2 linked regions of the Homo sapiens genome follow. The protein of the gene in region 1 purifies or fractionates together with the protein of each later gene. This does not show direct contact. Each region holds a gene or a part of one and is shown on either strand. Other genes may lie near its edges.

Region 1 (5,076 bases):
TGGGTTAAGTCTAAGCTCACAAGAGGTTTCTTTTTGTTTAATTCGGAGTGATGTCCAGCTAAGCCGTACCATATTCAAGGAGTATCCTTATTATCTTCCTTAGCTCACTAGCAAAGGAAGTTCTCCCATATTGATGGTAGGTAAATCTTAGCTTAAAGAGATAGAAGCAGTGCTCTCAGTTCATTGGAAAGATAATAGAACTGAGAAAGACAGGCTGATAGCTAAGCCAGGTTGAGGGCCTAGATATCATGGTTTCAGTGCTTTAGACGTGCTGGTATAGAGGTGGAATTATACCAGGACAAAAGGAGAAGAATGAATTCACCATGATCAGGAACCATGTCGCCTTCCTGGAAGACCCAGAGACCTAGAGTTCACATCAGAACTGAAAATGGACCCATCACCAATGGGACAGCGCTTCAGCAGAAAACTCTCTCACCAGAATTCTCCATCCTCAACTTTCTTGTCCAGTTCTTCCTTCCGCCGGGGGTCTATGTGATTCCACTCTGGTGCACTGAGGGGAAAACAAGCAGAGATGCTCGCTCCTGAGAGGTTCTACAAGCAGGGCAAGCTGTTTACTGCAGCTAAGCTTCCCCCTAAGAGCCAGAAACAAAATACCAAAAGCACTGCAGGCAGACAGAAAGGCAGAATGGACAGTGTGGCGCGAGCACACTGTCTGGGGAAGGGACACAGACCCAGGACACGGACTCCATGGGCACTAGCACGATGGCCTTGGACATGTGCCAGGAACATTATGACTCAAACATTATGCTCTAATTTTTACTCTCTAGGGCAAATTTGACATTTCTAATTAAGACTCCCAGGCCCCTGTTTGCAGGAATGGGGAGGCCCAGGAGAGAACGTGGATGAGTTCTCGTCACTGGAAAGGCAGGCACTCCAGTACCCATTAGTCACTTATCACTCTGGCTTATCCAGCAGTCTAGGGTGAATATGCTGACAGAGTCTAACCAGCTCTGGGGACATGGACATGGTTCACTTCCTTACACCCACGAGAATGATCATCCAGCCCAGTTTTACGGCAATTTCCCAGAAGAAACGTCACCCTGTGAGACCTCCTGCTGGTGGCCTTTCAAGGGCAATATCTATGCACTTTGTTTGAATGCCATCTCCAGCTTCCTGACCTTTACGAAGTTAGGTTTTCCTGAAATATGTATGTGACATCTAAGTAACAGAGCAGTATCAAGATCCATCTTTAAAAAAAAAAAAATCCCTGCCTGAATACCTTCAGCAAAACCTAAGCACCTTCTCTCCCCAGCATAAGAGCTGGGGCACACTCCAGCGCAGCCTCTTCCTCCAAGCCAGGCTTTAAGACCCCGGGGGTCAGCACGACAATTCCCAGAGCCTCTTCAATTCATTGAAACATTAATTTGATTAAAACCAAATCTCAGAATGTGCTTGTTATAAACAAAGATTAGGGCAGGAGTTGGAAAATTCCAGATCTGACCTACTGCTCCAATTTCTTTTTTTTACTTTTTTTTTTTTTTTTTAAGTAAAATCTCACTAATCCCTGGGCTGAGCTTAGGGATGTTGCCTTAGAGATTCGGCACCCTCCTCCTCCAATAGCTGATATATATAATTATCCCAGGTTGCATCTCCAGCTGGTAGGGCCTCCAGGACTTGACAGTCACCACCTCCCGCCTGCCAGGGAGCGGGTGCTCAGGGAAAGGAGAGAAAGTCAAACAAGCCCTTTGGACAGCTCGGTAGTGACTTTTGGTAAGAATGGCCCACATTCAGGGTTTCAATTTCACGTGGCCCTGTCATCCTTTTAGGGAAGTTGGCGGAACTGAGGTTTTGGGTTTTGCTCAATCTTACACAGTAGAATGAAAAATCCTTCCTACAGGAGGCTCATGTGTGGCCCTAGAGACACGTGTTTCTTCGTGACACAACCTGAAGGGAGTTACTGCCCCTCTGCGTGGTCATGACATGAGCAGTCATGATGCTGTGATTAAACTTGGCGATGTCCCCTTCGAAAGCCCTGGTGGCATCACAGAGTACCGACAGCACTTGAGGATTAAGGACGTATTGGGAGGGGGCATTATTGTGACCATTTTCATTTCTGGTGGTTCTTTGTCCATGAGACTGGCTAATTATTTTTTTTTTTTAAATGGAGTCTTGCTCTGTTGCCCAAGCTGGAATGCAGTGGCCCAATCTCGGCTCACTGCAACCTCCAACTCCTGGGTTCAAGCGATTTCCAGCTAATTTTTGTACTTTTAGTAGAGACGGGGTTTCACCATGTTGGTCAGGCTGGTCTCGAACTCCTGAGCTCAAGTGATCCACCCGCCTAGGCCTCCCAAAGTGTTAGGATTACAGGCCTGAGCCACTGTACCCAGCTGAGACTGGCTAATTCTAATTCCTCCCCCACACTAACCTGCCTCTGCCAGGCCAGCTGTGCTCACTGGACAGAAACCACCCCATGCTTTCCACCCTCCTGCATGATGGGGACATGGATTCCAGGGCCCAGCTGTCCTGGGACATCACCACCTCTGACTGACTTTCCCTCATCAGCAGAGAGGCCTGCCCAAGAGGAGTCTCTCCAGTCAGTGATCAAACGTGCCTAGGGTAGGAGCGAGTGCCGCTGCCTCATTCATCACTGCTGCCAGGGCCCGGGGCTCCTAGGGTCAAATTTCATTTTCTCAGCATCCTTGTTTCTTCTTGGTGCTGAGGGGTTTGGCCTTTGTCAGTGTCCAGTGTTTGTGGAGTGGAAAGAAACAGACTGTGAGTGATCGATTTGACCTTTGGACCAGCACGGTGCGTCAGGTAAAAAACACAAAAACCTTTCAGCGCAAAGCAAAATTCCACAGAGCCGCCAAACTTTCAAATGCCAAAGCAGAAAGCCAGAATCGAAGACTACAGCCCAGTGGTTTTTATTTTGCTTTTCCCAGCCTGGATCCATTTAATACTCTTTTCTGAACACACTGTGTGATCTGCAGACAGGACGTGCTGCTGAACTCACTGTGACATCGATCTCATTGTTGTGTGTTTTACACGACACCCTTCCGCAGAGGGAGAGATGACTGGAGAAGCGGGGGAAAAAAACCTACTCATCGCTCCAGGCTCCCGACCACTCCACTTCACCCCATGGATTCCTGAGTCTGATCAGCTTCTCTGGATGGCCCTGGAAATTCACCTGCAAATTCCATACACAGAAAAGCGACTGAATTACTATGCTCCTGTTGCCTTGCAGGCATGTCTGCACCTGACAGGATCTGCATTAAATTTTTCAAATGTCCCTAAAGGACCACACTTTTATTTTCCTTTAATGCATCTTTTCAGGCTTGGGCCAAGTGTTTTCATAATTTGTTTGAATAAATGAGGTATTTTTCATAATTTGTTTGAATAAATGAAGAGTGAGTCTAGCCCAAAAACAAGCTTATGTCTGCTTTAACTCAGATTTAGATTTTATAGTTGACTAAGATTGACTGAGCTTTTAATACATGAGACCTAATGATAATAAACGCCCTCCAAACAAACACCAAAGCACGGCAGTTAACATTTATCGAGCAGGTACTACAGATGAGGTGTAGTGCTAAGCATTTTAGGTGCTTTATTGCCTCATTTAACACTCACGACAATCCTGAGAAGATAAAGAATTATCTTCATTTCATAGCTCAAAAATCTGAGACTTAAAGAAGTTACATTATCCGAGATTATCTAGTTAGTAAGTGGTGAACGCAGGCCAGGAACTCAGGCAGTCCGTCTCCAAAGCCCATACTCCTAAATCCACATATACTGCTTTCCCCTATTTATTGAACACTCAAGCATAAGCCCCTTGGGCCCCTGCACACACACTGGCATTCACATATACACACACCAACTGTGTAGGCTGTTAGGTCCTCATTGTCTTCATTTCCTGTGTATCCCCCAACTCACCTAGCCCAATGTTTGCATGTACATGTTCAATTCCCATTTATGAGATTAACTTCATTAAAGAGCATATTTGGGCCAGGCGCAGTGGCTCACGCCTGTGATCCCAGCACTTTGGGAGGCCGAGGTGGGCAGATCATGAGGTCAGGAGATCAAGACCATCCTAGCCAACATGGTGAAACCCCATCTCTACTAAAAATACAAAAAAAATAATTAGCTGGGCGTGGTGGCGCGTGCCTGTAATCCCAGCTACTCGGGAGGCTGAGGCAGGAAAATCACTTGAACCAGGGAGTCAGAGGTTGCAGTGAGCCGAGATCGTGCCCCTGCACTCCAGCCTGGTGATAGAGCAAGACTCCACCTGAAAAAAAAAAAAAAGAAAAAAGAAAAGCATATTTATGAAACACAAACACATGTAAAGAACATCTGTTTCATTTAACTCTATTTATTTATTTATTTTTGAGACAGGGCCTCTCTCTGCCACCTAGGCAGGAGTGAAGTGGTGCAATCACTGCAGGCTCTCAAGCGCCTGCCCGGGCTCAAGCGATCCTCCCACCTCAGCCTCCCGAGTAGCTGGAACTACAGGCACACCCTACTATGCCTGGCCTATTTCAGTTAAATAAATAACAAGAGGTGGGACATTCATTGCATTTCCCTTTCTGCCTTGGCCATTGGGAAGCCCAAAGCAAAATTAATTTCTCAATTATAGCACTGTCTTCAGCGTGGATTGATGTATTTTACTTAGTTGTGTGGTTTTATCATGTCTGTTCTTTTAATGGTAAACCACTAGCTGGGTATGGTGGCTCACACCTGTAATTTCAGCACTTTGGGAGGCCGAGGCAGGAGGATGGCTTGAACCCAGGAGTTCAAGACCAGCCTGGGCAACACAGACAGACTCTGTCTCTACAAAAATTTTTAAAAAATTAATAATTAGCCAGGCATGATGGCACTTGCCTGTAGTCCCAGCTACTTGGGAGGCTGAAGCAGGAGGGTCACTTGAGCCCAGGAGGTTGAGGCTGCAGTGAGCCAAGATCATGCAACTGCAGTCCCACCTGGGCAATGGAGCAAGACCCTGTCTCTAAATAAATAAATAAATAAATAAATAAATAAAATCATTGTAAGCCACCTTAAATCCCTTTTGAAAGAAGACACAATGTAGGAAATAAAAATAATGAATAGGCCGGGTGCGGTGGCTCA
Region 2 (4,832 bases), on another chromosome or scaffold:
CTCAAGGAGTCACATAATAAATCTCTCCAAAGGTGCGGTGGCTCACACCCGTAATCTCAGCACTTTGGGAGGCTGAGGCAGGAAGATTGCTTGAGCCCAGGAGCTCGAGACCAGCTTGGGCAACGTGGTGAAACCCCATTTCTATAAAAAATACAAAAATTAGCTAGCTGTGGTGGTGTGCACCTGTGGTCCTAGCTACTTGGGAGGCTAAGGCAGGAAGATCTTCTGAGCCCAGGAGGTCGAGGCTGCAGTGAGCCATGATTGTGCCACTGCACTCCAGCCTGGGTGCATTTGAGCAAGATCCTATCTCAAATGAGTGAATAGACAAATCTCTAGGACTCACCTTGAGGGCTGTCAGGAAACCCTCTGGAAAAGGATGTCTCATGGATATGCCAGTGTAAACTCTCCTGAAATAACCCTTTCTCTTCTCTACCCAGACTAACTTTACCTACCCTTTGGGGCCCAACTCAGATCCCTCCTTCTTGGTAAAAAGCCAGTTCAGACTGAAGCAATCCCTTCTATTAACCACATTAATTATTACTGCAATTAATCTCACAATACCTTGAGGCTCCGAGTGCTGAGAGGATTTTGCCTTTTGTTATAGTGATGGAAAGGATGCATTTCAATATGTTGCCTTGCAGTGCAAACCTTTGTTAACAGGGCAAAAATAGCACAGGGGGCAGGAATTACATTCCTGGATGTGCATTTGGCTTATTTACATGGATTTGGGTGCCCTCTAAGGACACCATCTTCTCTCCCCTCCAAGAGGGTCAGGCCACAGGACATCCATGTTCTTGGCCTCCCATGGGAGAGGGTCTCTCGCCAGAGGAAGGGAAAGCCAAGTGGCCACAGAGTTCCAGCCTGTCCCTGTGACAGCCCCTGCCTCTGGCCAGACATCCACCCACCCTTGCTAAGTCAGCCTGCTCTGGGGCTACTAGGCCCAGTCCTTGCTGTCTGTCGGAGACAGACCATGAAGTGCAGTGTGTGGAGGGCTGGGACATAGCATACCGAATTACCCCAGGGAGCTTGGAAAACATCTCTTCCCACTCTCTGTTAGGCCCACGGCTTCCTCTACTGGAGGAGACGGCATGTGAGGATGGAACTCGGTCATTCCTCTGTCACCACCGATGTGAACAGTCTGGAATCCTGCACACAGGAGACTGACGATCCCTGAGCAACCTTTAGTAGCTCCTACCATTGGGCATTTTCTTGGTACAGATCACAAATAAGAGACATCATAGAAAATGTTATTCTTTTATTATTTCAAGGAGGTAATACATAGCCCAATATGGCAAAGCAAAAGGGAATTAGAGGCAGCAAATGGCCAGGTTTTTCTAAGCGCCTCATGCTGCATCTCTGAGCTCCTGTCTGCCCGCAGCCCACAGCTGCTTACATGAAGGCCAGGTCAGTAGACAGATGGCCCAACTTGATACTCCACTGACTGAGAAAGGGCTCAATGTGCAGCACAGCAGAGGCACTGCCAGGACCCAGCACGCTGGGCGGCACCCCACGCTGCCACCACCAGCTACAGAGGCTAGTGCCTTAGTAGCAGCCAGTGTGTCTAGCACTTGATTTTATTCCTGTGAGCCTAGAGTGGGCAGGACGTGAATAAATCCTGAGTCATAAGTTAAGGTGAAAGACTTAGTAGTGTTAATACTCTTGGTGAGAAAAGACAACACAGTCTTGGAGGAGAGTGGGCTTGGAGTCTGGTGGAAGAAAGATAGAAACCCCCAGAAGGGCCTCGGCCTGCAGGCACTGCCTTGAGGCCATCAGAGGGGGTTTTCACGGTACATGATAGGGAGGAGTGAGGCAGGTGGGCACTGGAGGGCTGTTTCCTCTGGCACAGTTGAACTAGAGGGTCACTTTCCACTCATAATTGGTTTCCTAGGTCTAAGTCACCACACCTGGGGCTGAAGCAAGTCTTGCCTGTGCACCAAGCGTGGCCTTGGACCCTGGAGAGATGCAAGGCTCAGTTCTCCAGTGTTGAAGTGGAAGGACTCCCAACTGAAGGAGATCTTTCTCTCCCCACCTCCAGCTCTTTTCCCTTACAAATGACCAGGGTGCAAGTCGAGAGGCAGAGGCACCTCCTGGTGCAACTCCACCACAGTCTTACAGAGAACTCATCTTGGTGGGACCCAAAGCCCAGCCTTGGCATGAAGCAGACTTATTCCACCCATCGGAGGGCACCCAGTCTGGTGACTGAATGGTGGCGTGCAAGTGGGAGTCAGCAGTGGCTCTGGATGCCGTAATACTCAGATGCCATTCATCTCTGTGTGATCGTCCTGGCTGGAGAGCTGGTGAGGAGGGACTGCTTCCTCCTGGCATGCACTGTTCACCAACCACACCACGTGGGCTGATAGATTTTTGGTTTGACAGGTGTGGAAAGAATTTTTAAAACCAGCCACTGTGTTCTCCAAACCCAGAGCCATTGGTTTTGTTTGACAAGAAAGTACCAAGAGAACCACAGCTCCACTGAGGCTAAGGCTTGTGTAGCACAGAATGCAGTATGTATTGAAACGTATAAACCTTGTCTGACTGGGGAGATGGGTGAGCAAAGAGCTGCCGGGACCCAGGTCCTCTAGTCGGTTGCAGGCTCTGCCGATGTCTCATCCTTAAGCTCCTCAAAACCTGGGACTGGCTTCTGTAGAAAGTATGTAGTGGCCTGGATCACCTTGTCTGGTCCAATGTTGTACACTGGGTGAGTGGGCTGCTGCAAAGAGAAGAAAAGGTGCCAGTTAATCACCCCGGTGGTCCTTGAAAACATAACACATCCTTTGCTCCATGAAAGGCACTTCTAAGAATTTAGTATAAGGAATCAGAGATACACACAAAGCCCAAAGGTTCAAAAATGGTGTATTTGCTAAAACTATCTAGTACATGGGACACAGGTTAATATACAGCCATTATAAACACGCATTTAAATATTTAACGATACAGGCAAATACTTACAACATATTATGTGAGAAAACAGTATGTACAATACTATCTCAAACTGTTTTTTTTTTTTTTTTTTTTTTTTTGAGAGAGTCTTGCTCTGTTGCCCAGGCTGGAGTGCATTGACACGATCTTAGCTCACTGCAACCTCTGCCTCCTGTGTTCAAGCAATTCTCCTGCCTCAGCCTCCTGAGTAGCTGGGATTACAGGTGTGAGCCACCACGCCTGGGTAATTTTTGTATTTTTTTTTTTTTTTTTTGAGACGGAGTCTCTCGCTCTGTCGCCCAGGCTGGAGTGCAGTGGCGGGATCTCGGCTCACTGCAAGCTCCGCCTCCCGGGTTCACGCCATTCTCCTGCCTCAGCCTCCCAAGTAGCTGGGACTACAGGCGCCCGCCACTACGCCCGGCTAATTTTTTGTATTTTTAGTAGAGACGGGGTTTCACCGTTTTAGCCGGGATGGTCTCGATCTCCTGACCTCGTGATCCGCCCGCCTCGGCCTCCCAAAGTGCTGGGATTATTTTTGTATTTTTAGTAGAGACAGGGTTTCACCATGTTGGTCCGGCTGGTCTCGAACTCCTGACCTCAGGTGATCCACCCGCCTCGGCCTCCCAAAGTGCTGGGGTTACAGGTGTGAGCCACCACACCTGGTCTCAAACTTTTTAAAAAGTGTATTTGTACCTGTGATGTATATAAATAGCAAAAATTGTACCCATACCAAAATATTAATAGTGATATGATTGTTTTTCATTTTCTTTTTTATATTTTATGTATCCCAATTATTAAAACAATAAACATGTATTTACATTTATAATCAAGAAAAAGGGGGCCGGACGCGGTGGCTCATGCCTGTAATCCCAGCATTTTGGGAGGCCGAGGTGGATGGATCACCCGAGGTCAGGAGTTCAAGACCAGCCTGGCCAAGATGGTGAAACCCCGTCTCTACAAAAATACAAAAATTAGCCGAGCATGATGGTGAGTGTCTGTAATCCCAGCTAGTTGGGAGGCTGAAGCAGGAGAATTGCTTGAACCCGGGAGGCGGAGGTTGCAGTGAGCCAAGATTGTGCCACTGCACTCTAACCTGGGCAACAGCGAGACTCTGTCTCAAAAAAAAAAAAAAAAGAAAAAAGGACCACAACCCTAATATGTAGTAAGGCTGTCAGATCATATTTAAATATATAAACAAAATTTAAATATGAAATTTAAATTAAATAGATGTTATTCTAGTACATCACAGAAACCCAAAAGAAACTTTAGATTTGACACGGCATAATCCTAGGCCAATATTCAGGATTCTCCCACTGTGGGATAATGAAGAAGGGGACACAACTGCAGGAGAGATTTTAAAAATTTTGAGAGAATACTAGGAGCAACCTCATGCTGAAACATACAAAAATTCAGATAAAACAATAATTTTTAAAAACCAGGAAAACTGCCAAAATTGACTTAAGGAATTTTTAAAGGCCTACATGAAGAAATTAGTAACAACAATTGCTTATTCTGCCACCCCCACATACCTTAAAAGATACTAGACCTAGATGGTTTCTCAGGCAAGTAGTATCAAACCTACAAAGAAACAGATAATCTCTGATCTATACAAACCTTTTAAGGACTGAAAAAAAAAAAGGGGCTAGTGCGGGGGCCAGGTACAATGGCTCACACCTATAATCCCAGCACTTTGGGTGGCTGAGGTAGGATAGCTTGAGGCCAAGAGTTCAAGACCAGACTAGGCAACATAGCAAAACCCTGTCTCTACAAAAAATTTAAAAATTAGCAGGTTCTGGTGGTGTGCACCTGTAGTCCCTGCTACTTGGGAGGCTAAGGCAGGAGGATAGCTTGAGCCCAGGAGTTCCAGGCTGCAGTGAGCTATGATCACAGCACTGTACTCCAGCATGAGTGAC

Evidence for each region. The genes of interacting proteins can lie anywhere in the genome.
Region 2: the proteins of CAPN8 (region 1) and FNTB purify together in Homo sapiens (affinity purification with mass spectrometry, with the first as the bait; one large-scale study listed by BioGRID). This does not show direct contact.

Annotation. Positions count from the first base shown.
Region 1 is NC_000001.11:223,619,756-223,624,831, forward strand, and holds part of CAPN8 (calpain-8), read right to left. Parts: intron 3,146-5,076; coding exon 3,060-3,145; intron 512-3,059; coding exon 437-511; intron 1-436. UniProt on the Homo sapiens protein: Calcium-regulated non-lysosomal thiol-protease. Involved in membrane trafficking in the gastric surface mucus cells (pit cells) and may involve the membrane trafficking of mucus cells via interactions with coat protein.
Region 2 is NC_000014.9:65,059,059-65,063,890, reverse strand, and holds the end of FNTB (protein farnesyltransferase subunit beta), read right to left. Parts: intron 2,711-4,832; coding exon 2,579-2,710; 3' UTR 1,241-2,578; downstream 1-1,240. Other genes in the region: CHURC1-FNTB protein, read right to left, coding at 2,579-2,710. UniProt on the Homo sapiens protein: Essential subunit of the farnesyltransferase complex. Catalyzes the transfer of a farnesyl moiety from farnesyl diphosphate to a cysteine at the fourth position from the C-terminus of several proteins having the C-terminal sequence Cys-aliphatic-aliphatic-X.